Linked DNA regions of Homo sapiens. The protein of the gene in region 1 purifies or fractionates together with the protein of each later gene. This does not show direct contact. Each region holds a gene or a part of one and is shown in the gene's direction. Other genes may lie near its edges. The genes, in order: PRKCE, IL32 and OGFR.

Region 1 (10,192 bases):
ACTGGAGGTGTTCTATTAAAATTTACCAACAAATATCAATATATCTGAAAATATTTATTGAGCATCTATTATGTTTCTTACTTTGTGTAAGTCACTAGGGGCAATAAAAGTGCCGGACAGAGTCTTACCTTTAAGTATCCTATAGTCTACTTAAGTGGAGAACACCTCACAATATACACATAAAGATACTAACTATAAAAAGCTGAATAAGATATAAATAAGTGCCAAACAGGTGTTAGAGACAAGTGTCACATTGCTTTGCATGAGATAACTTGCATTGCTTGGATAGGTGGAGGGGGACGTTATGGAAGACATGGGGTGAGCTTTGCTTAGAAAGGTCAATTGTATTTGGATAGAATTAAAAGTGAACAAACTGAAGTCTCTTGTTTTCTTCCCTTAAATTGGCAAATGAAACCTTGAGTCTGTGCTTTCAGAATATCAATTCAGCAAGTAACACTGGGTATTAGGAACACTCTCTTTTTTTTTTATTTTAGCAGTTTTTAATGAAAGTTATATGTAAGATTTATTCCTGAATCCTCTCAATTGTTTTTTCCTTGCATTTGCCCTTCTCTTTTCCTACTTGGTGAGATGTGGCTTTCCGTTCAAAGATCTCTTTGCAGTCTTTGTCCAGCTTTAGCCTGGTGATAACCACCTTGCTGGGGTAGATACCCACGTGGATAGTTGAACATTAGCCTTTTCCTGCTGTACCCGTCCAATGTAGATGATGTATTTCTTCCTGTAAACCTGGACTACTTTTCCAGCTTGCTAACCTTTATGGTGTCCTCGCACAACCCGAACTACTTCATCCTTTTGGATGGGGTTGGATCAAACATTGTACCTCTGTCTCAGCTCTTTGGAATGAGGGGAAGACATCATCCTTCTGTGAATGTAGGGAAGGTGCACTGAAATTCCTTTTGTGGTTCTTGCTCTGGTCAGACGTCACAGAGGGATCGAACTTCATTTTGGCTACTTTGGCGATGGCTGCAAGAGGACAGAGATCTACTGAATTCCTGCTGCTCTGGGAACTCTCATGGCTCTTATACGGCATCTTGATGCTTTTGACATCAGAAAACTCTCAACCCTCCCTTCTGATGCCTCTGTCCCTGCTTTCTCTCCTCTCTAGCTCATTGCTGGTGCCGAGTCCCCGCAGCCTGCTTCTGGAAGCTCACCATCTGAGGAAGATCGATCCAAGTCAGCACCCACCTCCCCTTGTGACCAGGGTGAGACCCTCAGATTTGCTTCCTGACCTCTGAGTTCTGCCATTGGATGGACCAAGGAGCTCTGAGGCCTCTTTAACCAAGAGTGAGCTTGTTAGCTGAAATAGCTAGCAGCCCTGGTGGGTTTTCACACACCCGTTGCCTGTTGATTTAACAGTTCTTTCATTCTCCAAGACCTTCTTGAGGGCTGGGCACTCCATGGCCATATCTGCCTTAATTTCCTTCCAGGCCAGGGTAAGAGGAGAGCGAGTGTATGATGTTATGGTTATCTGTTTTCCCTTGCCTCTGTCCCTGGTTCCAAGTGTACTGCAGAGAGAAGGGTACAGCTCCCTCTCTTAAAGCTCTTGCCTGGCCCTAGACCTGTCAACACCACTCCCTTGAGTTGAGTTTGACACTCCCTCCCCCATCATCATACCCAAAACCTGAGATCAGCTTGAGTTTGGGGCTGGGTGAGGGAGGATGTCTTCTATCCTGGCCTTTGGGTGGGTGAGGATAGAAAGATGAAGCTAGAGGAGAGACTGAGAAAAGAAGTGGGAAGGAGGCCAGTCCTAGGCCTGTTTCCCCTCTACAGCTCCAGATATCTCCTTCTGTCCGACTGTGCTTCAGACAATAAGTTCTGCAGACATAATTTGCACAATAATAATTCTGCAGCCATCCGAGAATGATGAGGCTGAGGAGGGACTTACACTTGCAAAACCTCCTGCTCTCGTGACCATTATCAGATATGCCTGGTAAGGGACATATGCATCTGCAGAAGAGGAATAACCATCACAGCCTGACAATGGTGCCTTGGTTTTTCTATATCCCTTTTTGTATTCATTATCCTAATTTTATGCCCATACCCACTCTATGTTGGTGCTTCATTACTGTCCCCCAGGTTAGTGAGTGGGAAGTGGGAGGTCAGAGTGTGGAAAAGTTCTGTCCCAAGGTTTGGAGATAAGTCAGTGGTAAGGGCAAGACTGTACCCATGCTGGCTGAGGGACACACTCTCAGAAACCCTGCCATCAAACCTTCCTTGGAGGTCACCACCATGACCCAGACCTTCTTACCCAGGAGTAAATAAAAGAGCTTCGGGGGTCATGCACCAGCCCTGAGGCCACAGAATAATTGGTCTCAGTCCCTCTTCGTGCTACTCCAATTAACTTTCTGTGTCTTTATACTCTACCTCATTCCAAATGAGATTTGAAGCATTCATAAGTAGCCTGATGTACTCTGGGGCTGCAGAACTTGTAGCTATTTTCCCAGACCAGTTTGGGGGTTTTCACGTGTTCCTTTCTGAGGCTGAGATCCCCTTTGGGAGCTTCAGGGAGACAGGGTCATATAGAAAAGAGACCCCAGGTAAGAGTTCAGAGACCAGGGTTTGTAGGCCTGGCTCCTGCCCTGCATGCTCTCTGGCTCTGAGCTCTGCCATTGGATGGATACAGTGGCAGGATACAGCGGCCCCAGGGCCTCTGTTCATCCCACTTGACACAGACGCCAGGATTTCCCAGTAGTGATGTTAGCACAGATGTCCCTCTGAGCGACATTATTACAGAACAGAAATAAGACATAGTTTCTTTTTCTTCCCTTGTAAAGACACATAGAAAAACCTTTTCTTCAAGCTTTGCTGTCCCCAAACAACTATGTTTTGCCTTCCAAAATTCATTTAATAACTGAGGCTTTTAGCTCTATTGTGAGATTAAAAGTTATTTAGTCAAGCTAAGTGATAGGTGGATAACTGCTGAACTGGCAAGGGGAGTGTCTGCAGACTCAGCAGCTTTCCCCGTCTTCACCCTCCCCAACACGTCTCAGAGGAGCCAAACTCCAGATCTAGGAAAGATCTCCGGATTCCTTGAGTAAGCCCTTATGGGACTCTGTCCTTCTGAAAAGAAGCTGAAGATCTCTTTCTGTCACTCATGCCTAATTCTCATTCCCAAGGGTTAATAGGCTATGTTCCCCTTCCATAATCCAAGTTATTCACAAGCATCATTTAAAATCGGATTTTGCTCAAGATGCCCATTTCCACACAGAAGAGTGCGTGTCTTGATGAATGAGTTGCTAACAGTAAAGCTTCTTCAAATAGAAAAGGTCAGAGGATCATCCAGCATTATCTCCCCCAGGTAATTCAGGTCATAAGCTCTAGAGCGGGGCACAAGACTGTCTCGTAGTTGAGAAATTGTACTGAGAAATTCCCGCCCCATTGGAGATAAGTTTGCAACATGTCACTTGGGAAAGCAATTCTTTTGTTAATAATAAGCCCATTGCTCATTTTGTTAGATAACCTTGTGTAAGATGGGTATTTAGAAGAAACCCGGCAACAAGGCTGAGTAAAGGTTTTTAGAAGGTATGAAGGTTTCTACCTTCAGTGATCAGCCACCGTTCTGATGGCTCAGTTGTTGAAATAATTATATCACCAGTGATTACTGTGATGACAGTTCTTGATTCGTTGTTCTCATCTTCAGAGGAAACTTGAAGGATACCTGTGACTCTGCAGAATTCCAGAGAGGGCCCAGATTTGTGTGCTTTACCTAGAACAGTGGAATAGGCTACTAGCCAAAGGGGGCTTTCAGAGAGACAGCCAGGTCCAGTGTAATCTGGAGTTGACAAGGGCAGGGAAGGGACTGTGTCCTCCTCCTCTTTGCATACCTAAGCTCTGCTGCGCATTAGGTGCCAATAAGAGTGTGGTGAACAGATGAAGGAACATACAAAGGGATGTCACACTGGATCTGTTGTGAAGAACCAGAAAGAGGACTGAGAGCTTACAGGGGAAAGTCTGAGTGTTGAGTCCTAATGTAACAGGCTTAAGAGGTATGCACTAATGCAATTTCTTGTTCCCCTTGGCCCTAGAAATAAAAGAACTTGAGAACAACATTCGGAAAGCCTTGTCATTTGACAACCGAGGAGAGGAGCACCGGGCAGCATCGTCTCCTGATGGCCAGCTGATGAGCCCCGGTGAGAATGGCGAAGTCCGGCAAGGCCAGGCCAAGCGCCTGGGCCTGGATGAGTTCAACTTCATCAAGGTGTTGGGCAAAGGCAGCTTTGGCAAGGTCTGTGGCACACACGGGTGGAACTGCTGGTTTTGTTCTACTCCTTAGCATTGTTTCGTCTGTTTGATCTAAGATTGAGAGAGGAACCTTTCAGCCTGATCTCGTTAGGTTTTCTTTCCTTTTTTGTAAGTGCAAATGACCTGAGGCCAAGTAGATAGGAGCGCTGGTTCTGCTATTAATTGGCTATATGAGACTTTCAAGTAGTGATTTAATCTCTTTGGAATTCAATTTTTCTCATTTGTTGAATGGGGACAGGAATCAAGTGAGATGGTAGATGAGAAAGCACTTTGGAAAGTTTTAAATGCTCAGTGTTCCAAATCAATAGTAGTGTCAATACATGTCTTCCCTCCTTCAGAGATCAGCTGAAATTCTGTTTTTAATTTGTTATGAAGACTTTGAGAATGAATCTCTGCCCTCAGCAAACCTAGGGTTTAAAGCAAATTTAGCATGCATTACTTTGGAAGGTAAATGTTATTTAACTGATCTTTCTGGCATGTAATAAATGTTCTGTTTATCCTTTACACGTGGCAAGAAAATGGGAATAATCATCTCATGCCTCGGATCAGGGTCCTCTGCCCTTGGTGCCATTCTCCATATCCTGTTCCCACTGAGATGAACACAGTGGTGTGGGGTGTGGCCTTTAGTATGCTCAATAAAGCACTAAAGGTGATCAGCCACCATTCCGATGGCTGGGTGAGATGGAAAAATTAACTCCTGTTCATTTAGAAAGAAGATGAAGGGGCAGGGAGCAGAGGAAGCTGTTTGCATTTCACCTGAGATCTCTGATTGTTCCCTGGTTCTGTTCAGAGCTAAGCCTGGGAGTCACCTTTCTGGGACCCCCTGAGAAGTTCTGGGAGGTCCTGCTCTGGGGACCAGGAAGCTCCTGGGATCACATGCCCTGGCATGTCCTGGACTCTTGAAAGCAGCAGCCTGTAGGTCAGTCAGCTGGCCCATCCCACCTGGTTCCCAGCCGTCTCACCTGCCCCTATCTCACCCTGATACCACTCTGGTGGGAAGGTAACTGGGGTTTACTTAAATGGCAAAAGCTGAAGCAATTACATTCTTTAGAGACTGACTAAATAAAAAGAGGTCCTCTGGTTAGGCATAACTCTGGGACCTGAACAGGATGTGGTCTAATTTTGAGCAAGACTCCGAGATTCTAGGTTTTCATATAGTGTAGGCAGAATGGGAACTTAGATGACTTTGGAGCATTTAGGTTATCTCTTAGGAAAAATCACAGCCAAAGTTTGAGCCAGTTTTAAAGAGTCTGTAAAATACGCGGGCGACAAAAAGTCTTCAGGTTAACATCATGAATTCCCTCATTAAGTTTCTGATGGCTGCTTTTTAGCTTTGATGACTTACATTGGAATACTGTACTTAGGAGTTACTTATTTAAGAAGAGAAAGGCTTGTGACGTTTGTAGGTAAATGAGTGCAAAAATATCAAATGATAGGAACACTTTAAGAACATAGAACTGTTAATTAGCTCTCTTGAAAAGGAATCACGTTTCCAGCTTCAGAGTTATAAAAGAAACCATAAAGGCAAACAAGGACAGATTCAACTACATAAAGATACATGATTCTTTTCAATAGAATAAAATAACAGAAAATTATAAAACAGGCTTAGAAAACCTTTTACAGAAAGTAAAGGGTTAGTATCTTTATATATCACATGTGTATAAATTTGTAAGAAATTAATATGATAGCAGCATAATTAGACAAAGGAGACGTGAATAATTTACACGAAAAGAAATACAGTCAGAAAACAGTTAATTTTAAAGTTTCATTTTAAGTAAAAATAGCATCAAGGTAACATTTCACACCTATTAAGTGAGCAAAAATACTTTTTAAGTGAAACTACTCAGTATTGGTAAGTCACCATGAAACTCCAACACTTCTACATTGCTAGTGGCACATTGTATCACACATCCTTTCTGAAAATAGGAAATGTGCAAAATGCTTCACCCTTTAATCTACTTATGAGGGTTTCCATCTTACAAATGTAATCCAAGAGAAATTGTTTTAATTGTGTACAAAAATACTCAATGCAACTTATATAATACTTAATGATTAGATATAACTGAAGTGCCTAATTTGAGGGAAATGGTTAAATAAATTATATTTACTTGAATTGAGTATAAGCAACCGTGATAATAATGGAGACCATATGGAGAATGTCTGTAAGATAATGTTCAGTTAAAAATAGTTACATTATTTTACTGTACTGTAACTGTAAAAATAGTTGGTGTACTGTAATTGTAAGTATGACAAACACATATAAACATATGAATAACCATTCAACAGATGTGCATTGAACTTCTCTTTTCTATGCCTGGGCATTGTGCCAGAGATCAAAAATAAATAAATTGTAGTAACTATTAGAATGTAGTAACTGTAGAACGGTAGTAATTGTAGAATAGGAAGTTTTCTTAAACATTATGTATACATCTTGAGAGGGGGTCTTGCTATGTTGCCCATGCTGATCTGTAACTCCTGGGCTCAAATGATCCTTCTACCTCAGCCTCCCAAGTATCTTGGGTGCATGCCACCACACCAGGCTTGTTATAATATTTAAAATTAAAGAAAAAACAGAATTCGTTTTTGAAGTATTTGGTATTAGCTTACACTTCTTCTTTTTATTCCATACATGCATAGATTGATGGAGGCAATTGATTGATTGCAGGTCATGTTGGCAGAACTCAAGGGCAAAGATGAAGTATATGCTGTGAAGGTCTTAAAGAAGGACGTCATCCTTCAGGATGATGACGTGGACTGCACAATGACAGAGAAGAGGATTTTGGCTCTGGCACGGAAACACCCGTACCTTACCCAACTCTACTGCTGCTTCCAGACCAAGGTATGTTAGGAAGAAGCTGGCTGGCTGCCATGTTGGGGCATCTTGACTATCAGATAAAATACCAATTTTAGACCCTCTACATTGTTCTCTCAAAGACTTTGTAAAGTGGGATGGGTTTTACCCTTGAAAAGATCAGGATGTATTTGAACAGCATCTTCTTTTTTAGGGCACAGGATTTTCCATTCAAGGTTGTGCTTGTGAAGGGATGAGAGAGCTGTAGAATTCTTTGCAGCCAGAGTTGGACAAAGCCAAATGGCTAAACTCACTGTTTGCTCATTGGAAAAACCAACAAGTGTGGTTAGTCCTTGCTCTGCTCCTAACTTTCTATCACTAATCAAATCACTTAACTTCTAAGTTATTTTCATGTCATATGAAAAAGAGTAAAGGCCACCTTAATCTCTTCTAATCTGTGTAATGTCATCTGAAATAAAGGATGTGAACAAATGCTTAAAATTTCATAGTGAAACACAAATATAAGGCAGCATTTTTAATTTACCGCATAGGTGTCTGGGAACCAGAAGGTGGCAGTAAAGAAACAAAGATAATCCATAACTCCATGGTAGAGTCTGACTCGAGTATTATTAACTAATTTGTTACCTGTTTTTAGTAAAGAAACAGCAATGTTCTTCATGAAGCTCTAATTTTGTTATCCTTTTTGAGGGGTTGGGAGGAGTTAAAGTCTTTTAGGATCATTATGGATGTTTGTAGTATTTTGCTTCTTGAGAAGGCAAAGACAGACATCACCTGAAACTCCTAGCTGTGGCTTATGTGGAACCCAGACCCTGAGGGTGACATCATGGAGAGGTGATACCTTGCTTCTGGGTGTATTCTCATCTCCATGTCATTTTGAATGCCAGTTTTTCCACTTAAAATTCAATAGTTATTCATTGAGTCATTTGGCAAACTTTTCTTTTATTATATTTCATTATATCCTTCCCGTGTATCTGATGCCATGCCAGGTGCTGGAGATACAGTGGTGAACTAGACTAGTCCCTGACCTCATGGAGTTTACATTATCTTTGGTACACCGTTTCCCAGAGAGGATTTCTCAGAACCCCAATCACTTGAGCAGCTGTAAGAAGAAAGGACTCTGTGACCCATAGTTGGAGTCACTGCAAACGTAACCTCTCTTAGTCTCAACACACGTATGTTTATTAGCATCCTTGAGGAGACCTGCAATGAAAACAAAATTACCTTTGTTTAATCTACTTTTCCGAACTTATTTGATCCCAGGGTCCCCCATCTCTCTCTTACACACACATACACATGCACCCACACACACACAATGCCCATTCCATACTGAGGAACCCTGATCCAGTGGAATTTTTCCTATCCTTCTGATCTCTCAGGAGAATAAGAAATATCGTCTGAAAATCTGGAAATCATTCTGCTTATCTTTCAAGATGGACACATATTTCTTTGTCTACGAAACTTTCCTCAGAGACCACTATTTAATAGGAATCTATCCCTTTTTCTGCACAAGTATAAGAATTACTAACTCTTCTCATTTTTCATGTGTGTTGTGTAATGCCTAATATTTATGGGTTTGTGTGTGTACAGAATCCTGAATAATAGAGACTCAGTGATGGAGTTAACTTTCTTCTTTTTTCCACTAGAGCATAATTTTAGATTCATGAGAAATGTATCATATTTTGTATTTTCCATGGTGCCTATCACAGGGCCTCACACTTGACAGGTACCCACGGACAGAATCAAAGACTTGGAAGATTTTTTCAAAGTCACCTTATCTTTCTTTATCTCTCTCTCTTTTCCTTTCTTTTCTTTTCCTTTTTTTTTTTCTTTTCTTTCCTTTTGGTACCAGTGAGAAAATTGGGTTTCAGAGAAGTAAAACTATTTTGCTCATAGGCACTCCATCTTGGCAGAGTCAGACCTGGCATCTCATCTAGTCTCAGGGACTCCCAAGGTAGTGGGGCCTTGCTCTGATTCACATTGCTAGTTTCTTGTGCCTGATCCAGCACAGGGTCCCTTCTGTTGGAGGAACCCTCCCACTTCCCCCTGTCCCCAGCAGGTAGCCCTCCCTCTCACTATCTGAGGTGGCTTTCCAGGCAGGGAGCCACTCTGGCAAGTTTTCTTTACACCATTATCAAGAAGCCCAACATCCTAGGAGGGGTCCAGTTTAGTTGTGAGGGCTCTATGGAGCCCCTGTACGTGGTGGATCATGGGAAGCCACGTTGAAGGTCAGCTTGGTGAATGAGTGAGGGAGTGGGAATGGATGTCTTCAATGTCAGCAGTGTTCTCCTTTGTGCGTTGTAGAATAACAAGGCTAAGGATTCCTCATCATATGGCAGCTTTTGGAGCACAAAATGGTGTTGAATAACACCAGGGATTTCTTTTATGGCAGAACAGTGATCAAGCTAACATGGATGTTGTCATGGATGGCTGTAGGGTGAGGATGGGCAGAGAAGGAGCTTCCTCTGTAGTTCAGATATTTACTATCTTTTCTCAGGCCACTGTCAGGCAGCCACAGTCACAGGAGCAGCTTTGCACCAACTCTCTCATGCCACCTCAGTTTCATAGAATACTTAGCTTTATGTAACAGATGCATATTCACTGAATTTTTCTAAACTGAATCATATTTTAACCTCATAGAAGGATCTTAACTTACTTATGAAAGGAACCTGATGAAGAATCAGCTTATAAACCTTCAACTTAACTTTTTAAAAATGTGACTTTCCCTATGACAAACCAACAGTTTATCATAGTTTTAAAGAGTAGCTATTATTCACCTGACTCTGAGGTAGATGCTGGGGTTATTAACCAAAGGAAGACAGTTCTCACGTGGAAGGATTCACTGATAATAGATTGGGAGGTTATTCTAAATTCCACAAGCTAAGAGGGAGTAGCAAACAGCATTGAATAGTTATGTTCTAGATGGGAGTATTCAAACCAAGAAGACTCAGGGGAGGGGGTCTTCCCTACGATCTAGTGGAAGAAGTGCGATCAAGCCAGGCTTTGAAAGGTAGAGAGGATTTGGACAGGATTTGGGAATAGCAGCTGGGTTTGGTAGCCACAGAATTCAGTCTTGATTGAGTTTCACTTTTCCTGAAAACAAAGGACAGTTCCTCTGAGCCA
Region 2 (11,083 bases), on another chromosome or scaffold:
CGGCCTCACCCGGAGGGACGGCAGCCCCGGTCGCGCGCTGGCCCCGCAGGACCTTCCTTTTCCAGGAAGAGCCAGCTTTTCTCGGAGCGCAGTCCTGGGACTCTCCGCAGCCCCGCCCCGCCTGGCCACTGCGTCTGGCATTCCTGGGTCGTTAGAGGACAGGCCTGACTGCGAAGCTGTGCCTTGCCCCTCTCCCACCCGCAGTTTCTCACCCCGTTCTGCTCCCACAAGGCCCCCCTACAGTCACTGCCACACTGGTGGGGACCTGGGACCCAGACCCGGAACCAGCCCAGATATCACCCCTGAGGACCCATGCGCCACGTCCTGGGTGGTGGAATCAGTGGCTGGAGGGACGACCCTTGCTCTCCAGGCTGTTAACCTTTTCCGTTGCTCCCCCGCCACCCACCTCCTCCTCCCCAGGCCACCCAACTTGGGCACCTCCCTGGGCCCAGAACTGCCTTCCATTCAATGGGGAACCCTTCTATCCCCAAGAACCCCTTCCCTGCTTGCACCCTGGAGAGAACAGCTTGACTCCCATCAACTCAACGCTGGTGGAAAGACAGGGACCGAACCCTGGCTCAGGCCTGGTCATTGCCTCCTCAGCACTCCCTCCTGGGAGGCCTTAGCTCTAGAGTGAGGGGTGGGTGGAACCTGGGGGCACCTCGTTCACCCTGTCCCCACTCCCCACAGTTTTAGGATCTAAATGATTGCCTCTGGAACTATTCTTCTAGACTATCCCACATCAGAATCACTGGGAAATTTAAGTTTGCAGATCCCACACTCACCCTGAATCCTCACTCAGGGTGGGGTCAGGAATCTGCATTTTAACTAGTCGCGGGGATTGTGGGGGGCAGTAGCTGGCTGTTTCGTGGCATTTCTGTGGCTCTGCAGTGTTCCTCCACCCCAGGACCAATATGTTCAGGCCACACCGATGGCCTGAACCCCATGGGTAGAGTCACTTAGGGGCCACTTCCTAAGTTGCTGTCCAGCCTCAGTGACCCCCTAGTGCTTCCTGGAGCTGAGGCTGTGGGCGGCTGTCCCAGCAACCATGCGAGGGGTTGCCCCAGTTGCTCATACAAACAGATCAGCATGAGGACAGAAGGCAGGAGACTTTGGTCAGTTACCTGGGAATTCTGGGCTGCCAGGAAACGATTTGGGCCTCTGTCAGTTTCTTTTCCATGTATGAGGAGGGGGAAATTTGTATATTAGAAACTTATTCATCCCACTCAGGACAATAAAAACGAATGTACAAAAAGCCCTTCCATTCTTCTGAGCATTGATGGACCTGGGGAGAAGTGTGGTGGCAGGAACTGGACTGACCTGAATCTCCCTGCTTCGCAGAAGGAATCCATGGTTGATGGGGAATCTAAGAAGGAAGAGTGGGCCCGGGCGTGGTGGCTCATGCCTTAATCCCAGCATTTTGCGAGGCCCAGGCAGACGGATCATTTGAGGTCAGGAATTTGAGACCAGCCTGGCCAACACTGAAATCCCATCTCCACTAAAAATAGAAAAAAAATTAGCCAGGCATGGTGGTGCATGTCTGTTATCCCAGCTGCTAAGGAGGCTGGGACAGGATAATCACTTGAACCCGGGAGAGGGAGGTTGCAGTGAGCCAAGATCTCACGATTGCACTCCAGCCTGGCCAAAAGAGCGAGACTCCGTCTCAAAAATAAAAATAAAAATAATAATAATAAGAAGAAAGAAGAGTGGGAGGACGAAGTAGAGAGGAATCGAAAAGTTGGTTATGGGGCACCCGGAGGACGGACGGCCACTGTGGAATTGAGACTGCCTCATGGCTCCATGTAGACTTCCAGAGCCTTTAAAATTTTATGACTGCTACACAAAAATGTCATGTCAAAGTGATTATTTTTATTTTTTAAGTGGTATCGTTTAAAAATGGCATGGTCTCATAATCAAAATGTAAAACTTTTGTGCTTCAAAGGACATCATCCAGAAAGTTGGAAAGAGGCTGGGCACAGTGGCTCACGCCTATAATCCGAATAGTTTGGGAGGCCAAAGTGGGAGGATGGCTTGATCGCAGGGTTTCAAGACCAGCCTGGGCAACATAGTGAGACCTTGTCTCTACAAAATAATCAAAAAATTAGCCGGGCATGGTGGCAACCCGTGTCTGTATTCCCAGCTACTTGGAAGGCGAAGAGGAGAGAATCACCTGAAGCCGGGAAGTCTTGGCAACAATGAGCCATGATCACGCCACTGCACTCCACCCTGGGCAACAGGTGTGTCTCAAAAAAATAAAAATAAAAATAAAATTGGCTGGGCACGGTTGCTTATGCCTGTAATCCCGCATTTCGGGAGGCTGATGCAGACGTTTGAGAGGCAGATGTCACTTGAGTTTGAGAGTTTTAGACCAACTGGCCAACATGGTGAAACCCTGTCTCTACTAAAAATACAAAAATTAGCCAGGCGTGGTGGCGCATGCCTGTAATCCCAGCTACTTGAGAGGCTGAGGCAGGAAAATCGCTTGAACCCAGAAGTTGGAGGTTGCAGTGAGCCGAGATCGTGCCTCTGCACACCAGCCTGGGAGACCAAGCGAGATTGCATCAAATAAAAAAAAAAAAGAAACACAAAAATTGTCACATGGTACCATTTCAGCGCACTAAGATGGCTAGAATTAAAAAGACACAGAGCATAACAAATGTATCTGGGGATGTGGAGAAACAGGAACCCCCGGGCACTGCTGCTGGGAATGTAAAATGACAGACAATTTGAAACATAGTCTGGCTGTTCCTCAGAAGGATAAAAACACATTTGCCATGTAACCCAGCTATTCTTCTCCTTCATACGTATCCAAGAGAAGTGAAAACATAAGTCTGCACAGAAACTTTTGCGTGAATGTTCACAGCAGCGTTATTCAGAATAGCAAAAAAGGGGAAAGAACCCCAACTTCCTTTGAGGGGTGAATGGAGAAACCAAATGTGGTCTATCCACACAGTAGAATATCATTCAGCCAGAAGAAGGAATGAAGGACTGATCCGTGTTACAACACAGATGAACCTCAAGAACAGCATGTTCCGTGAAAGAAGCTAGACACAGAAGATCACGTAGTGTATAATTCTACTTATAAGAAATCTCTGGGAGAGATGCATCCATTGAGAGAGAAAGTAGATAAGCCCAGACGCAGTGGCTCATGCCAGTAATCTCAGCATTTTGGGAGGCCAAGGCGGGCAGATCACTTGAGGTCAGGAGTTCGAGACTCCTTGGCCAACATGGTGAAATCCCATCTCTCCTAAAAATACAGAAATTAGGCCAGGCTGAGTGGCAGAACAAGACTCCACCTCAAAAAAAAAAAAAAAAAAAATTGTCACGTGATACCATTTCAGCCCATTGGGATGGCTGGAATTGAAAAGACACAGAGAATAACAAGTATTGCTGAGGTTGTAGAGACACGGGAACCCTCGCACACTGCTGCTGGGAATGTAAAATGACAGACATTTTGAAAAATAGTCTGGCTGTTCCTCAAAAGGATAAAAACACATTTACCATGTAACCCAGCTATTCTTCTGCTTCATACATATGAAGTGAAAACATACGTCTGCACAGAAACTTGTACGTGAATGTTCATAGCAGCATTATTCGGAATTAGCCAAAAAGTGGAAAGAACCCAAATGTCCTTCGAGGGGTGAATGGAGAAACCAAATGTGGTCTATCCACACAGTAGAATATTATTCAGCCAGAAAAAGGAATGAAGGAATAATGCGTGTTACAACACGGATGAACCTCAAGAATAGCATGTTCAGTGAAAGAAGCTAGACACAGAAGATCACCTAGTGTATAATTCTACTTATAGGAAATGTCTGGGAGAGAGGCATCCATTGAGAGAGAAAGTAGATGAGGCCAGACACAGTGGCTCATGCCTGTAATCCCAGCACTTTGGGAGGCCAAGGCGGGCAGATCACTTGAGGTCAGGAGTTCGAGACTCCTTCATCAACATGGTGAAACCCCGTCTCTACTAAAAATACAAAAATTAGCTGGGTGTGGTGGCACGTGCCTGTAATCCCAGCTACTCGGGAGGCTGAGTCAGGAGAATTGCTTGAACCCAGGAGGCAGAGGTTGCAGTGAGCCGAGATCGTGCCACTGCCCTTCAGCCTAGACAACAGAGCGAGACTCTAAGAAAAAAAAAGAAAAAGAAAAAGTAGATGAGTGGTTATCCAGGGAAATGAGGACTGGCAGTGATGTCTCAGAAGGGCAGAATTTCTCTTAGAGGTGATAAAAATGTTCTAAAATGGGTTGTGGTGATAGCTGCACAGTTCTGTGCTTTGAATTGTACAGCTCAATGAGTGAATTGCATTGCCTGTAAATTGCATCACCATAAAGCTATAAAAACAGGGTACATACAGTCTGGGTGGATCCCAAGATGTCTTCAGATGGTGGCCTTTGAGAGTCATGAGGGGCTAGGGTTGGAGCTGAAGCCTAAAGCATGACTTTTAGCTGGTGCAGGAGTGGCTTCCTTCTGTCTCCCACTACAATTCAGAGGATACTCAGGGAAAGATCTGGACATCCTGTATGTGGAAAGGCGGTTGCGCACAGTGGAATGGACTCCTAAGTGGCAGGCAGGTGACAACCGTTGTCTACTTCACCCAAGGGAAGATTTCTCCATGGAGCGTGTTTTATAGGTTCTGTCTCTCCGAGTCCCCTTTGAGAATATAATGGGATACATTGCATCCATGCTGAATTCCTAAGCCCCAGGACCTCAGAATATGCCCTTATTTGGAAACAGGGTCTTTATGGAGGTACTTAAGGTACAATGAGGTCACTGGGGTGGATCCTACTTCTTTTTTTTTTTTTTCCGAGGGGAATTTTCATTGTTGTCCCCCAGACTGGAGTGCAGTGGCACCATCTCAGCTCACTGCAACATTCGCCTCCCGGGTTCAAGTGATTCTCCTGCCTCAGCCTCCCGAGTAGCTGGGAATACAGGTGCCGGCCACCACGCAAGGCTAATTTTTGTATTTTTAGTAGAGACAAGGTTTCACCATGTTGGCCAGGCTGGTCTAGAACTCCTGACCTTAGGTGATCTGCCCGCCTCGGCCTCCCAAAGTGTTGGGATTACAGGCGTGACCCACTGCGCCCGGCCTAGGGTGGACCCTATTTCAATATGACTGGTGTCCTTTGGAAAGGGGAAAGGGGGACAGTCACACCCAGGCAGAACGTGATGAAGATGAAGATGGCCATCTACAAGGGCAGGAGAAACCTGAACAGAATCCCAGCTCCGGGCCCTCAGAAGGACCCCACGCTGCCCACATTGACCTTGGACCTCCAGCCTGCAGATCGTGAGGGAAGAGACGTCTTCGACTTAGGGCCCCTTGTCGTGGTACTTCCTTAGTTTGGCCCCAGGAAACCATCCCAAAGGCAAGGGCGTGGTTGTGCTCAGCTGGGGGAAGGGGGCTGGGGGCCGTGAGGAGGAGGTGGGAGGCCCAGCCAGGCTGGAGGGTCAGAACCCGTGGAGCTAGAAGAGCCCGTAGGGGAGCCCCAAGATTGCTGAGACCAGTGACCTTCGGCCCCAGATGGCCTTGCCTTGGCCCAGAAGGGTCAGAAGGACCTGGTCAGCCAAGCTCAGACAGCCGGCAGGATGCCTTCCACCCTGCAGAGGGTCCTATCTTGTCCCACAGGTAGATCTACATCACCACTAGCCACCCCTCCAACGTGCACAGGCCCCTGCCCTCACGGCGCCCCTCTTAGGTCCGGCAGTTCCTGCCTCCTTCTGATCCAGAAGTTTCTCTGGCCTCTGGAGCCGGGGCACACCTCATGCAAGGACAGGGTCCAAATTCCTTTGTCCTTGGATCCCACTTGGCTGACGTCACCTTCCTGTACTCAGGGAGTTTCCCCAGCCAGCTGTCCCGAGTCTGGACTTTCCCTCTGCCCCTCCCCACTCTCAGGCTGGTGGGGTGGGGAAAGCAGCCCATTCCTGGGCTCAGAGACTCCCACCCCAGCTCAGAGGGAGCAGGGGCCCAGCCAGGGACGGACCCTCATTCCTCCCAGGGACCCCAGACCTCTGTCTCTCTCGGGTAAGTCTCCATCTCTGTCTGTCTCTGTCTCTGTCTCTGTCTCTGTCTGTTTTTCACGCACTCAGCAAGGCCTCCTGCCCTGAGAGAGGCTCCGCCCACTACCCCCCACTTTCCCCATAAAACCAGCTGAGTATTTGTGCCAGGAAGACTGCGTGCAGAAGGTGACTGTCTCAGTGGAGCTGGGTCATCTCAGGTGGGGAGTTGGGGTCCCCGAAGGTGAGGACCCTCTGGGGAGGAGGGTGCTTCTCTGAGACACTTTCTTTTCCTCACACCTGTTCCTCGCCAGCAGGCCTTGGCTCCTTGAACTTTTGGCCGCCATGTGCTTCCCGAAGGTGAGTGAGAGGCTGCGTGTGCTTTTGTGGGCATGTCTGAAAACAGACCGTAAGGGTGCGGGTGCCCTCAGTATTTCCCGAGGTGCCTGTGTGTCAGGGCTCAGTCAGGGGCACCCAGCGGCAGGAGGATAGTGATGGGGTGAGAGTGTCAGTGGAGGCGCTGGAGGTCATATGTGTCGGGGGCGCTGGAGAACGGCAGGGGTGTGGATGAGAGGGAGCACCTGTCCCAGGAGCCCTTCACAGCCCGGAAAGCCCGGGGCAGGGGTGGGGCAGGGCTCTGCTGGAAACGACTCGGAGAATGCTTCTCTCAGAGGCCGGCTCAGCTGGGTGGGCCCAAGAGCAAGGCCTGTGTGGGTCCTGGTGTCTCTTCCTCCTTTCCTGGGTTCCCTCCGACCTCCCATCCTCTACCACTGCCCCACCGCAAATGCTAGGCCCACCACACCCTCCAGGGAGCTCTTCGGCCTGTGACAATAGGGGTTTCCATGATGTGGCCTGGCTCAGGTTCAGGACAGTGACCCGGAGGACACATGGCTCCCGCATGTCGGCACGGTGCTGCTTTCACCCTGGTTCCTGGGAAATCAGGCTAGCGGGATGGGACCATCGCTGCCTGAAAGTGTGCAGACAGCTGCCCTGCCCAGAATATGTCCCCAGGCCCTGCGCACTCTGTGGGTGACTGTCACCACTCTATAGTGGGGGAAACCAGGCATGTCACCCCCGAGACTAGGCCCTTGACGTGGGGGCTCAGCGGGGATTCTGTGGGGTGCCTCTGGCCTCTGTGGATGCAGCCACGTGTCTGCAGGCAGGAATGGCCCGGGACCTGTGGGTCTGCATGTTGGCAGTCGGGAAGAGTGGCAGGTTGTAGGGTGGACCTACCTGGCACCCCAAATATTAATCAGCTCATCAGAGAGGAATGGCTGCTGTTACCTTCTCAATTGTCATGTCCCTAAACATTTTTTCCTTGGCCAACTCTCACCTGGGACCATAGTGGTTGTGGGAAACCCAGCTGAGCCAGCCTGCTCCAGGACAGTGTCCATCCTCCCGTGTGTGTACATGGGGGGGTGTGTGTGTGCAGGGAGGACACCCCGGCCCACGCAGGCCCTGCTCTTGTGAGGAGGGGTCACCTAGGCCCACGCAGGCCCTGCTCTTGTGAGGAGGGGTCACCTAGGCCCACGCAGGCCCTGCTCTTGTGAGGAGGGGTCACCTAGGCCCACGCAGGCCCTGCTCTTGTGAGGAGGGGTCACCTAGGCCCACGCAGGCCCTGCTCTTGTGAGGAGGGGTCACCTAGGCCCATGCTGGCCCTGCTCTTGGGCCTGCCCAGCTGAGCCGGCTCCTGAGAGAAGCGCTTTCTGAGTCGTTTCGAGGACAGCCCTGGCCGGTCTTTCCAGGCTGTGAGGGGCTCCTGGGACTGCTGTCTCCTCTTATCCTGTACCTCTGCCATGTGTCTCTGTGTGTGTGTGTGTGTGTGTGTGTGTGTGTGTGTGTGTATAAATTATCCTGGAGGAAAGGTTAAGGTGACACATGGAGACTGAGTGTCACCGTTATTTCCGCAGGTCCTCTCTGATGACATGAAGAAGCTGAAGGCCCGAATGGTAATGCTCCTCCCTACTTCTGCTCAGGGGTTGGGGGCCTGGGTCTCAGCGTGTGACACTGAGGACACTGTGGGACACCTGGGACCCTGGAGGGACAAGGATCCGGCCCTTTGGTGCCAACTCTGCCTCTCTTCACAGCACCAGGCCATAGAAAGATTTTATGATAAAATGCAAAATGCAGAATCAGGACGTGGACAGGTGGGTGGATTTCCCCTCAGGCACCAGGTCACATGTCCCCGCCCCCAGGCACTCCACCCTGTGTGGGGCTCAGGGTGAGAAGGATGAAGAGGGACCCACAGGCTCCCTCACCCCTTACCGTGGGCAAATGCTTGCACCTGGGTGGCAGTGAGTGGGCGGGTGGGGGATCTGGACGCCCGGGGAGACTGAGGGAGGCATCCAAGCCCCAGGGCTCCTTGAGGAAACAACAGGGGTGCCAGACGTGGCCCGGGCCCCTGGCTGGGCCCAGTTCGGGGTGTGTGGGAGCTGAGGACTCACTGGGCTTGAGGACTGACTGATGTGGGGTGCAGAGGAGGCTTGGGCCTGGAACCGAGTGCTTTGTTCCTAACAGGTGATGTCGAGCCTGGCAGAGCTGGAGGTGAGCCGTGGCCTCCCCCTCCACCAAGCTTAGTCCCTGGGTCTTAGGCTCCACAGGACACTGGGTCTGGGCCCCGGGTCCCCTTGGGAATCACCTGGACCAGTGGGGGCCACAGTGGGAAGGGGGCAGGCAGGAGCAGCATGAACCCCCTGTGCCCTCCTCTCCCCAGGACGACTTCAAAGAGGGCTACCTGGAGACAGTGGCGGCTTATTATGAGGAGCAGCACCCAGTGAGTATGACACACCCATCTGGGCACCTTGCCTTCCTTCACCTCTGCCCTGTCTTTTCTTTCTTTCTTTCTTTTTGTTTATTTGAGACAGAGTCTCGCTCTGTCGCCCAGGCTGGAGTGCAGTGGCATGATCTTGGCTCACTGCAACCTCCAAATCTCGGGTTTAAGTGATTCTCCTGCCTCAGCCTGACAAGTAGTTGGGACTACAGGCACCCGCCACCACTCCAGGCTGATTTTTTTTGTGTGTGTTTTTAGTAGAGACCAGGTTTCACCATGTTTGCCAGGCTGGTCTTGAACTCCTAACCTTGTGTTCCGTCTGCCTTGGCCTCCCAAAGTGCTGAGATTACAGGCATGAGCCACCGGGCCCAGCCAACCCCTGCCCTGTCTTGATGTGGTGTGGGCAGGGTGTGCCCAGCCCCTGAGCTTGGGGTGGAGGGCTGGGAGTGACAGCCTAGCTGGGACCTGCCCATGGCCTCACTCCTCACACAGTGGCACAGCCCTCAAGGCACGATGAGGGCCCTGACCTGGTGACCAAGCAGACACACCCATCCTGTCACTGCCATGGAGGTGAATGCAGAGGAGGGGGACTCTGGGAAAAGTCCCTCTTGCCCACGGGGCTGTGGTTGGGAAACCAACACCTGTGGGCCTCCGTCTCCCAGGGTCAGGAAAAGGCTGAGAGGCCTGGGTGTGGCCAGGGCCTGGGGCTGACACCCCCACCTACAGACCCTGAATGGTGCTCCCATTCCACAGGAGCTCACTCCTCTACTTGAAAAAGAAAGAGATGGATTACGGTGCCGAGGCAACAGATCCCCTGTCCCGGATGTTGAGGATCCCGCAACCGAGGAGCCTGGGGAGAGCTTTTGTGACAAGGTCATGAGATGGTTCCAGGCCATGCTGCAGCGGCTGCAGACCTGGTGGCACGGGGTTCTGGCCTGGGTGAAGGAGAAGGTGGTGGCCCTGGTCCATGCAGTGCAGGCCCTCTGGAAACAGTTCCAGAGTTTCTGCTGCTCTCTGTCAGAGCTCTTCATGTCCTCTTTCCAGTCCTACGGAGCCCCACGGGGGGACAAGGAGGAGCTGACACCCCAGAAGTGCTCTGAACCCCAATCCTCAAAATGAAGATACTGACACCACCTTTGCCCTCCCCGTCACCGCGCACCCACCCTGACCCCTCCCTCAGCTGTCCTGTGCCCCGCCCTCTCCCGCACACTCAGTCCCCCTGCCTGGCGTTCCTGCCGCAGCTCTGACCTGGTGCTGTCGCCCTGGCATCTTAATAAAACCTGCTTATACTTCCCTGGCAGGGGAGATACCATGATCGCGGAGGTGGGTTTCCCAGGGCAAGGCTGATCTGTTGCCGTATTAGTCCGTTTTCACACAGCTATAAAGAATGCCTGAGACTGGGTGATGTATAAAGAAAAGAAGTTTAACTGACTCACAGTTCCACATGGCTGGGGAAGCCTGAGGAAGCTTACAATCATGGGGGAAGGCGGAAGAGAAGCAAGGCACGTCCTACATGGCAGCAGGAGAAGCAGGGTGGGGGGAACTACCAAACACTTTTGTCCGCGTGTTTGTGTGTTTTTTTTATTTGAGATGGAGTTTCGCTCTTGTCGCCCAGGCTGGAGTGCAATGGGGTGATCTCGGCTCACTGCAACCTCTGTCTCTCTGGTTCAAGTGATTCTCCTGCCTCAGCCTGCTGAGTAGCTGGGGTTACAGGCATGCGCCACCATACCAGGCTAATTTTGTATTTTTAGTACAGATGCGGCTTCACCATGTTGGCCAGGCTGGTCTTGAACTCCTGACCTCAGGTGATCCGCCCACCTCGGCCTCCCAAAGTGCTGGGATTACAGGCATGAGCCACCACACCCGGCTGCCAAACACTTTTAACCCACCAGATCTTGTGAGAACTCACTCACTTACACCAGAAGCGCATGGGGGAAACCGCCCCCATGATGCAATCATCTCCAGCCCGGCCCCTCCCTCGACATGTGGGGATTACAGTTTGAGATGATTGGGGTAAGGACACAGAGAAAATCATCTCATTCTGCCCCTGGACCCTCCCAAACCTCATGTCCTTCTCACATTTCAAAACTCAATCATGCCTTCCCAACAGTCCCCCAAAGTCTAAACTCATTCCAACATCAACCCAAAAGGCCAATCCAAAGTCTCACCTGAGACAAGGCAAGTCTCTTCTGCCTATAAGCCTGTAAATTCAAAAGCAAGTTAGTTACTTCCAAGACACATTGTGGGTACAGGCATTGGGTAAATGTTCCCTTTCCAAATTGGAGAAATTGGCCAAAAAAGGGGGCTACAGGCCTCAG
Region 3 (10,418 bases), on another chromosome or scaffold:
GATTCTTCCATTCCCGAATCCAGAGAGGAACTTCGTCCTTCCAGAAGAGATCATTCAGGAGGTCCGAGAAGGTGAGGCTCGGGAAAGGTTGGGCTTGGGATTCAGAAAAGGCCAGACCCTGGCCAAGGGCAGGGAGGTGAGGGTGAGGACCCCGGGCCTCCAGGGAGGTGTGAGGGTCCAGCGCAGACCCCGCCCTACCTGTGCTTGGGTGGTCTTGGAACCTCCGGGATTGGAGAGGACTTTGTTTGAGAGCAGTGGCTGGACGGAAGCTGAGGCCTGTGTGGGCAGCAAGCGTCGGAGCAGTCCCTGGCCTGACCATCCCCCAGCGTCGGCCACCACCGTGGGTTTTCGGTGAGCGTCAGCTGTCTCCTCCACAGGAAAAGTGATGATAGAAGAGGAGATGAAAGAGGAGATGAAGGAAGACGTGGACCCCCACAATGGGGCTGACGATGGTGAGTGTGGAGCTCACCCTGCCCTGATGCCCTTTGGGGCTCAGCACCCCAAGACTGCCTTCAGGCAGGGCACAGTCAGGTGGGCGTAGAGCCTGCGGTGCAGAGGCCCCAGGCAGGTCATCTAGGCACAGGATGGATCCTGCAGTGCCCCCTCCCCAGGAGCTGAGTGCCTGCTCCATGTTGTAGGCCAGGGTCTGAGCGGCGGTCCCTGCAGTGCCCGCCGCAGGCAGGTCCTCAGGAGGACCAGGCCCCTCTGTGGGCCCAAATGCAAGGGGCTCCCAGCTCAGGAGGAAGCTTTGGGTTCAGAGGGTCACGTGTCAGTATGCAGATTTTTTTAACTGAACAGGAAGACAAAAATAAGATTCTGGATATTCTGTTTTCAGCCAAGTGATTTTTCGTTTCTCAGTTTTTTCATCTTCAGGGAGTTTGGGGAAAGCATCAGAAAAATCCAGCAAAGACAAAGAGAAGAACTCCTCAGACTTGGGGTGCAAAGAAGGCGCAGACAAGCGGAAGCGCAGCCGGGTCACCGACAAAGTCCTGACCGCAAACAGCAACCCTTCCAGTCCCAGTGCTGCCAAGCGGCGCCGCACGTAGACCCTCAGCCCTGGTGGCGGCAGAGAAGCGGGCGAGGCACTGTGGTCGCTGAGGGGGTTGGCTGGGTCTGAGTGCCACCCCCCAGGCCACAGTGATACCATCCCAGTGCCATGAGCCCACACTGCCCGCCCTCAGGCTCTCAGGTGAACGTGGCCGTCAGCGGGGAAACGTGTGTGTCAGTTGGACCATGTGGGACCCTGATGGACCTGAAAGACCAGGATCGGTCCAGCTCAGATATTGAGGGCTCTGAAGCCTAGTTCTGTCTTCTCTGGAGCAGCTGTGGCTTCCCCGTGGCTGCTTGGTGACATGGATTAGCGCTACGTGGGCTGCAGCATTTGGGATCCAGGCTACCTAGAGGGGCATCGGGCCAGGGAAAACCTCGGATTAGCAAGCAATAAAAACATGACCTCACTCTTCCTCAAAGGAGCCCCTGGTCTTCCCTGTGTGACTCAGTTCTTTCCATCTGTTTGTCCCGCTGCAAGCCTCTTTCTGCGCTGACTGTGACATTGGAACGTGGCCTTCCTGTCACCCCCTCCGTGCCACGCACTGAAGGCCACCCCCACCCACCTGGGAAACTAAGAACTGGATATTTTGCCTCATTCACTTGTACTGTAACAATGTATATAATTTGGTTGGTATTTCACTATTTAATTTTTAAGAAGCCTATTTTACTAGTGTTTTATATGAACAAAGTACTGCAGAAGTTAAACCTGTGTTGTATTTTTTCTGAGATGTTTTGCTTTAAGAGATACTTTTTGCTCAGTTTTTATATGCCAGATACAGAGAATTTGTAGCGGTTATTTTTGTATGATCTAGTAACTTGCAAACAGACCAAATGGATGAGAGGCGGGGACCGTGCAGCTGTCGGCTGATGAGGAGGCGGCCGCCCCAGTGCTGATGGAGATGCCACTTTCGTGTGACTGCGAACATTAAAGCACAAAAAAATCCAACCTGGAGTTGTGTGATTTTGATACCAAAGTAAGTTCACTTTTCCTCCAAAAGGAAGTTTTTATTTTTCCAAGATTTATAACTAAAGCATACACTTAGATGACTTATTAACATTCACTTGATACAACATATAAACAAAATAGTAACAGATTCTGAGTGGTTATTTTGTGGACTGTGACAAGCACTTCAAATACAAAATGTTAGGAGGGCAAAACGGTGCGGGCCCTCGTAGGTCAGGCAGGCACCAGTGGGCTCCTTCCTGCTGAAAGCTGCGGCTGTGAGATGAGACCGCTGGCTGGGTCACAGAGTGAAATCCAGCGTTCCGTGTGCGGACGAGGAGACAAGCTGTCCTGGCCAGCCATCGCACCCCAATGTCTTCAGCTTGACGTTGCTTCTCTGCCAGTGGAGCCTCCTCCACCACCTGGGAACATCCCTGGCCATCTGTCCCTGAAGTCCTCCTCACCATGACGCAGATCACAAGGCACCCACTAAAGGGGCAAAGCCAGGAATCCCGTGCCATGTGATCGCCCCGTGTGGCACCTGCCACTCGTCTGCACCAAACGCACTGCCAGTTCTGGGGAAGAACAGCCCAGGGAAGCTGCTGGTCTACGGCCTGCCTGAGCTGTATTCCAAGGGTAGAGCAGCTGCCTGGGGGGACCCTGTGGGTCCCTTTTCTATAGAGCCGGGACAAATCCACAGCCCTGCAGTAACAGCCTGCCACAAAGAGCAGGCATCTGGAGGGCCCCACACACATAGACCAAAGGACTGAGCCCGCCTGGCATTCCTCCACTCACAGCACAAATACTCAGCCCTGCAGCCAGGGAAGGGTGGGGTCTCCCTTTGCTGCCCAAGTGTGCCCCCTTGCCCGTCTGATCTCTCCTGTTAGGTCAGCCTCATTCAGGGCTTTGTGCCAGGTCCTGTCCTGGAGTCTCAGTCCGGGACAGCAGCCTGGCTCTTAGGCAGTCCAGAAGCAGCAGGGCAAAGGGGGGCAAATACTAACACGGGGTGTCACGGGATGGCCAGGAGGAGTCCTGCTCGCCACCCAGGCTCACTGTCCTAAACCTCCATCTGAAACCGCATCTCGGGTGACCTCAGATTGTGCTAGGAAAGCCTAGTTAATAAATCTGCCTCATCTCGATTACTGTAACATTTTGCTGCACTTCCAGGAGAAAGCTAGAGCCCACAGGTTAAGCCCACTGGGCAGGTGAGCAGCGTGCCCCCGCCCCGGGCCTCCCTTCTGGACCAGAGGCTGACTGGTTGAAGTCAGGAGCCACGCAGCCCTTATGGACTCACAGGGGCTTCTGGGCTTCCCTGTGGGGAGGCCCAGTTCATGCTCTGCTGGCAGGTGGGATGACCAGGTCAAATTCACAAGTGTCAGGGCAAGGGCGATGTGGCCTCAAGTCCTGGTAAGCGCTGTACTTACCCTCTCCTGGCCCCAGGGGTCCTGTCTGTAACCTGGGGGCTTTATGTAATGCACACTCCACCATGTCATGTAGAAGGTGCCGACTGAACCCCAATCTGAAAAGGAAAACAGCTGGCATGAGGCTGGCCCGTGCACGGACGCTCACGCGCCTGCTGCTGTAGAGGCGAGACGTGGTACACTGTGCACTCGGGACAAGATCTGAACGGGTCAGAAGCCGCCGCTGATGTTGAGCCTGGAAGCCTCAGCAGCGGCTCTACACCTGGAACACGCAGGGCCCAAGAGCACCTGCTGCCGCAGAGACATTTTCTCTATGGCTGGCAGCTGCGGGTGGGGACTCAGTGAAGGCTGAGAGTGGGAGTGATCTGAACTCCCCCGCCTGCCCACCCAGGGCGACCCAGGGGTGACTGGGAAAGGCAATTGGGCTCCACTGCTCCCCAAATAGCAGCGAATAAATACTGAGCGGCAGGGCACTGGCAGCGAGGCTCCCTGCTTGGCTGGTTGATTGAGGACAGGGCATGCTTGGGCCAAATCAGGAGGCTGCCACTGGTCTTGCCTGGAGAAGATATGAAGGCTGTAATCCAAGCTCCCAGCCACACAAAATTCTGCTGGGCTCCTTAGCTGTGAGCATTGCCTGCTCCAGGCACATCACCCACTGCGTGTGCAGAGACCATTGCCCTTCCTGGGTGCCTGGGAGCTGTGTGTGTGTGTGTGTGTGTGTGTGTGTGTGTGTGTGTGTGTGTGTGAGTATGTGACAGAGAAAGAGAGCCCCTTTCCCCAGCCTCAACAGCAAACCCTTCTGGAATGCCGTGCCACACGGGGCGTCACTGGACTGCAGAGGATGCTCTGAAGAAGCAATTCTGTTGCACAGTCCCCTGCAGCAGCTCCTGCACTTCTTGGATTAGCACGCCCCCGAGATGAGCTCTGCACACACACACACACACACACAACACAAAAGCAACTAAAGAAGCAATTTGGTGTGGTGATATTTGTAAAACAGAAGTTGGGCAATGTCTCTAATACTCTTTTTAGGGAAGTGGTTCTATAGTCCTGCCGACAGTAGGTAGCAGCGGGAATGCTGTCCCCGTAGAACAATGTTGTCAGCACCCAGTATGCTTGTCTTTCTGTTTTCTGGGGCAGTGGAGGGGGCAGCCTGACCACCCAAGTCTCAGATCACCCAAACCCTATACAACCACCCAGCACCCATCAATGTCCCCATCAGAGCCCCCCGACTCCACCTCACAGTCTATTCTGATGCTGCAACCAGATCCCACCTGTAAATCATCTAACAAGGAGGTCAGGCAGCTCACTCAGGCTCCCTGGGAAACCTGCCCTGGCCACTGCACTAAGTTGATTTACAGAAATGTCCAGCGCCCCAGAACTTCGGGGCATCACCACTGTCGTTTCAAGAAAGTGTGATGCATGTCCACAGGTTCCAGCCAGGTGAGACTGCACCTGCTAACAGTGGTCAACAGGTCAGCAAAGATTAGGGCCCAGCACCCAGAGGGTCCTTAACCTGTACTTGTGGCCAGGATTGGAAGACTTGCGTTCACGGCTGTCCCTGGCACACAGTACAAGGAATGTCACCAGTTCCCAGGCCCAGCAGGCCTGCAGGGCTAGGAGATGGCAGTGTCCCCTAGGGGCTGGGCTGGGGCCTTCTCCACCTTTCCACCACCATCATTACAGGGACAACTCTGCGAGGAGCTATCCTCATGGCCAAGTCCAAAATCCAGATTTAGTTTTACCTAAATGTTTTGAAATGAATTGGTATAGCAGTTACAGAAGAAATTTATCTGGAGTGGCCACTCCTGATTTTTATTTCAAGAGGTCACCAACCTTGCCATGTATCTGCCAGCAGATGTCAAAGGTGGATGAGCAAGGGACCCGCGGTGCTGGGAAATGGCAGGTGAAAGTGACTTTGTGTTGCCCCATATCTGCCAGTGCTTAGAGAGAGGGCCCTGAGGAGGCGCTGAACTGGCATCAGCTGTGTTGAACAGTCCCCAGGGTGACCCTCCCGGTGGCCCAGGCTTCGTGTGGTCCTCTCCCCTAAGTGCCTTCTTACAACTGAGAGATGGCGGCAAAGGTGAAGGAAGCCACGGCTTGCCCATGTCATCCTGGTTATATAAGACTCGGCACCCTAGAGAGAAAGACTCCCCTGGTGGCTTTGAAAAGAAAACGGCCGTGCTTTGCACTGCCTATGGAGGGACAGGGGTCCGCCAGCAGCTTCCAGGAGCTGAGTAAGGCCCCCAGCCCGCAGCAGAAGGACAGAGACCCCTACACACCCAGCTTAGGGAGAGAGGCCCCTGTGGACACGTGGCCCCTCCGGGGGTTATCCTCCAAGGGACATTCTTCTGATGGGGACATCCTCTGGGGGGATTTCTCTTGGGGGACAGAAATATTCCTGGAAGAGGGGATTCTCTGCGGGGCAGGCATCCTCCGGGGAGAGAATCCTGCTGGGAGGACATCGTCGGGAAGACATCCTTCCTAGGTACCCGGCTCATCTTCCGGGGAGACCGTCCTCTGGGGGGCGGGCAGGCTTTGGGGACATTTTCGGGAGGGAGGATCTCCTAGGGCGGGCATCCTTGCGAGACGGGGTGGGGCGAATCCTCCCGGGTGGGCATCGTGGGGTGGGGGTGGGCGTTCCGCGAGGGGCATCCTCCCGGGCGGACGTTGGGGGATTCTCGGGGGAGGGAGGGGCGCGGGGCGGGCGTCCCGGGGAGGGAGGGGCGTTGCGCGCGGACGCGGGCGGGGCCTGGGCCGCTCCGTCCCCTCCCCCCGCCCGCCCCCCGCGCTTCCTCTGCTTTCGGTTTCGCTTCCGCCTCCAGCGCGAGCCCCGCCGCCGCCGAGCATGGACGACCCCGACTGCGACTCCACCTGGGAGGAGGACGAGGAGGATGCGGAGGACGCGGAGGACGAGGACTGCGAGGACGGCGAGGCCGCCGGCGCGAGGGACGCGGACGCAGGGGACGAGGACGAGGAGTCGGAGGAGCCGCGGGCGGCGCGGCCCAGCTCGTTCCAGGTGCGGCCCCGCGGCGCGGAAGAGGCCTGGGGTCCCCGGCGCCCCCCGCCCGGCTGCGTGGACGGGAGACCCCCCCATCCCGGGCGGAGACACCTGGAGCCTCCTGGAGCTCCCGCAGCCCCGGGGACCCCCCCCCAGACCGGCCGACCCCCAGCCCCAGGGCCCGGCGGGGAAGTGCGGGGGCCGCGCGTGGGTGACAGCGGAGCTGAGCCTCCCGGGCCCCATCGTGTGTGGGCGCCGTTCCCCCCGGGGGTGCCTCGGGCGCGTCCCGCCCCCAGCCGCCGTGGCCGCCCCTGATGGAACCCCTCCCGCCTCGGGCCCGCGCCTCGGCCTCCTGGCGGCCCCTGCGCAGGCCCCGCGGCCTGGGGCTGGGGCTGGGGCTGGGGCTGGGGCTGGGGCCCGGGCCGGGTCTGGCCTGGGAGGCTTCGCGTCTGCACCTGCGGGAGCCCGGGGCGGGCCGACGGGGCCTCCGCTTGTTACTTTTGTTACCGCCGGGCGCCTGTCATCGCCGGGGTTACTTTTGTTGCCGCGCTGGGAACGCCACACTGTCGCAGTCCGGCCCCCCTGTCGGGGAGCTGGGATTGATCTGGGAGCGGCCTTCCAGCTGAGCTGCCCGGGTTGCGGAGGGCCGGGAAGTGCATGGAACTCGACGGCTCCGCATGGATTCTCCCCTTGGCACCCAGCACTGTTTGCGTTTGCGCCTGGCCATGGTGGAGCGGGCAGTGAGAGAGCACGGAGGGGCTCCGCCCTGTCGCCGGGAGGGCAGCGGCCAGGCAGGCTGGGCAGGGGGGTGGGGTCTGGCTCTGTCCCACAGGACGGTGTGACCCCTGGGTGGGCTCTTGACGGGCTTTCCTCACTGGAGTTCCTCAGGCCGCTCTCCTGAAGCGGTGCTCAGAGGCCCTGACCATCCTGCCAGGCGCCCGTGACCCCTGACCTCTTCCCTCTGCCTCCTGCTGTGGCTTCTGTCCACAAGCCCCTCCCCTTCCCCTTTGGACCCCTCAGGCCTCCCCAGCTGCCTGCGCTGGACCCTGGCGGGGCTGTTTCACTTTTTCCTGGGCAGTGTCATGTATGCACCTGTGGGCTGACTGTGTGGCCACATCCAGTCAGGACCCAGCCTCCAGAACTGACCCAGGGAGGCTCCCGCTGGCCCCAGGAAGGAGAAGTAGAAACTGATGATCAGGCGGGGCGAGAGAACCACACCAGCGGCCCTGTTGAGAAATCAGGCCGAGAGGTCGGTGGCGGTGGCTCAGGCCTGTAATCCCAGCACTTTCGGAGGCCTGGGCAGTCGGATCACCAGAGGTCAGGAGTCCAAGATTAGCCTGGCCAACATGGTGAAACTGTTGTCTCTACTAAAAATACAACATTAGCCAGGCGTGATGGGCACCTGTAATCCCAGTTCCTCCAGAGATTGAAGCAGGAGAATCGCTTAAACCTGGGAGGTGGAGGTTGCAGTGAGTGGAGATTGCCTGGGAGGTGGAGGTTGCAGTGAGTGGAGATTGCCTGGGAGGTGGAGATTGCATGAAGCTCCATCTCGAGGGGAAAAAAATAAGAAAGAAAAATCAGGCAGAGAGGCAACGCCAGGTCCCAGCTGGAGCTCAGCGGGGAGCCAGGGGATACAGTGGCTGACCGGGCCTCCTAACCCCCCTTCTAGCACTCCCCCAGGATCCTGGGTCCCAATTGTTGCCCTGGACAAATACGCCCATTCCTGCCCTACCCACCGAGTGAGGCTCAGCCCCAGGCCCCCCACCCTCATCACAAGGTCAGGGCTGTGTCCCACCATCCTCATCACTAGGTACTTCCGGCCCTTTGCTCAGCCCCATGATGCTTGGCCTGCAGAGATGGGGGCTGAAGGGCTTGGGGCATCAAGGGGACCTGACATCTTGCTGAGAAGCCATCACTAGACAGGGCTGGAGGCTGGAGACTCAGGGCCTGCCCTCACCGTGGCCAGTGAGGCGTGGGGTTGGGCAGGGAAGGGGCATTCATTCATTAGACCCTGCCAGAAGCACCTGGGTCCCCTTCTGGGGCTACAGGTGGTGAGGCCACTGCCCCCAAGAACACAGCCTGGTGACTTTAGTGTACAAAGCAGGGGGAGTCTCCAGGGGCACAGAACAGAGGCTAAAGCCAGGGTGGAGGTGGCCAGCAGGCCTAGGAGGAGGAGAGGGTCAGGGCCACACCCCAGGGGAGGTGCATGTCAGCCAGGGGCCACCCTAAGGTGGAAGCCAGGAGTCCCAAAGGGGCCTAGAGAAGGAGCAGCCCCCCACCTGGCTACCGCAGCCCTCTCTGGTTCTGTGCAGGGTATTGGGATGCGTTACTGAGGCCCAAATCTGCCCCACTGGGAACCCCCAAAAAAGAGCCAGGGCAGGAGAATGAGAGGGAGGAGCCATGAAACCCCCGCCCTTTAAAGACAGCTCTGTGGCAGCTGGCCCAGGCCCTGCAGCCCTCACCACGTTGGGACTCACTTGGGGGTCTCCCATGGGGGTCCTAATCCCATCTCTTTTCTTCCCAGTCCAGAATGACAGGGTCCAGAAACTGGCGAGCCACGAGGGACATGTGTAGGTATCGGCACAACTATCCGGTACGTACCTGCCCCTGCCCCGGGACACAGAACCCTCCCGCCAGCTGCTCTTCTCAGGCAGAATGTCCCAGGTTCTACTGGAAGGCTGGCCTGGCTTGCTGTGCCAGGGCCACAGTTCTGGGCAGGACCCTGCCTGGGGCACAGCCTGGTATAGATTCAGAGCCCTGCCCTTCCCCTCTCGCGGGAGACCGGGGGCATCCCCCTACTTTTCTGAGCTTCAGCACACCGTCGCCTTGCAAACATGGCCATAGTGCCAGCCTCGTGATGCACACGTGTGGGGTCCGTGATACCGCCCACACAGCACCCCACCCCCATGCCAGCCCTGTCTCCTGCAGGTTGTCCTCAGCCATTACCCTCCACACCCCTGAATCACGGAAACCCCTGTGCTGCCTTCAGGGTGCTGAGGAGGGGACCTGCCAGGCCTGGCCTGGCTGGCGAAATGGGGAAGGGGGGTCCCTGGGGCTTGGAGGCAGCTGCTGTCCTCTGAATGGCCCCCACCTGCAGAGTGAGGAGCCAGGCGGGCTCTTGGGGTATTGGGCCAGCCTGGAGGTTTGCAGATGCGCCTCCCCGAAAGACACGGAGGGCCCCAGGGCAGCTTGTGTCTGATGGATCCCTGCTGTCCCCTTTCTCTGGCTCTTCAGGATCTGGTGGAACGAGACTGCAATGGGGACACGCCAAACCTGAGTTTCTACAGAAATGAGATCCGCTTCCTGCCCAACGGTAGGTGCCTCACAACCACTGGCAGCCGGCGCTTCCATCCTTGCCTGGCAGGGGTGGTCCACTGGGCCCTGGTTTGGGATGTACCCGGCGATTACCAGGGCCACGGCTTTCAAATAGCCCCACAGTGCCCCCTGGAGGCGGCCAGAGGGACTCCAGGATCCCCGGCTTGGGATCTCCGCAGTGGTGTTTGGGTCGGGGTGGGCTATCTCTGTAAAGAGCCAGAGACTGAATATCTGCAGCTTTTCAGGCCACACAGTCTCTATCAAAACTACTGAACTCCTGCACGACCTCATGAAAGCCACATGTAAACCAACGAGCTAAGGATAGCTTTTATATTTTTAAATGGTTGCAAAAAATTAAAGTAGAGGCCGGGCCTGGTGGCTCACGCTTGTAATCCCAGCACTTTGGGAGGCCAAGGCGGGTGGATCACAAAGTCATGAGTTCGAGACCAGCCTGGCCAATATGGTGAAACCCTGTCTCTACTAAAAATACAAAAAAAATTAGCCAGGTGTGGTAGCGTGCGCCTGTAGTCCCAGCTACTCAGGAGGCTGAGGCAGGAGAATCGCTTGAACTTGGGAGGTGGAGGTTGCAGTGAGCCGAGATCTCGCCACTGCCCTCCAGCCTGGGCAACAGAATGAGACTCTGTCTCAAAAAAAAAAAAAAAAAAAAAAAAAAAAAGAACAGTGTTCT

What was found.
Region 2: the proteins of PRKCE (region 1) and IL32 purify together in Homo sapiens (affinity purification with western blotting; 2 studies listed by BioGRID). This does not show direct contact.
Region 3: the proteins of PRKCE (region 1) and OGFR purify together in Homo sapiens (affinity purification with mass spectrometry; 2 studies listed by BioGRID and IntAct, with this or other methods). This does not show direct contact.

The regions. Positions count from the first base shown.
Region 1 is NC_000002.12:46,003,419-46,013,610, forward strand, and holds part of PRKCE (protein kinase C epsilon type), read left to right. Parts: intron 1-494; exon of another isoform or gene 495-997; intron 998-1,123; coding exon 1,124-1,220; intron 1,221-4,043; coding exon 4,044-4,243; intron 4,244-6,897; coding exon of another isoform or gene 6,898-6,915; exon of another isoform or gene 6,916-6,925; coding exon 6,926-7,099; intron 7,100-7,265; coding exon of another isoform or gene 7,266-7,319; exon of another isoform or gene 7,320-10,192.
Region 2 is NC_000016.10:3,059,472-3,070,554, forward strand, and holds IL32 (interleukin-32), read left to right. Parts: upstream 1-6,168; 5' UTR 6,169-6,216; exon of another isoform or gene 6,217-6,312; 5' UTR 6,313-6,340; coding exon 6,341-6,355; intron 6,356-7,905; coding exon 7,906-7,944; coding exon of another isoform or gene 7,945-8,082; coding exon 8,083-8,142; intron 8,143-8,512; coding exon 8,513-8,539; intron 8,540-8,708; coding exon 8,709-8,768; intron 8,769-9,518; coding exon 9,519-9,884; 3' UTR 9,885-10,059; downstream 10,060-11,083.
Region 3 is NC_000020.11:62,798,598-62,809,015, forward strand, and holds the start of OGFR (opioid growth factor receptor), read left to right. Parts: upstream 1-6,237; 5' UTR 6,238-6,262; coding exon 6,263-6,433; intron 6,434-6,870; exon of another isoform or gene 6,871-6,990; intron 6,991-8,939; coding exon 8,940-9,008; intron 9,009-9,649; coding exon 9,650-9,728; intron 9,729-10,418. Other genes in the region: MRGBP (MRG/MORF4L-binding protein), read left to right, coding at 1-71, 378-452, 859-1,046. UniProt on the Homo sapiens protein: Receptor for opioid growth factor (OGF), also known as Met-enkephalin. Seems to be involved in growth regulation.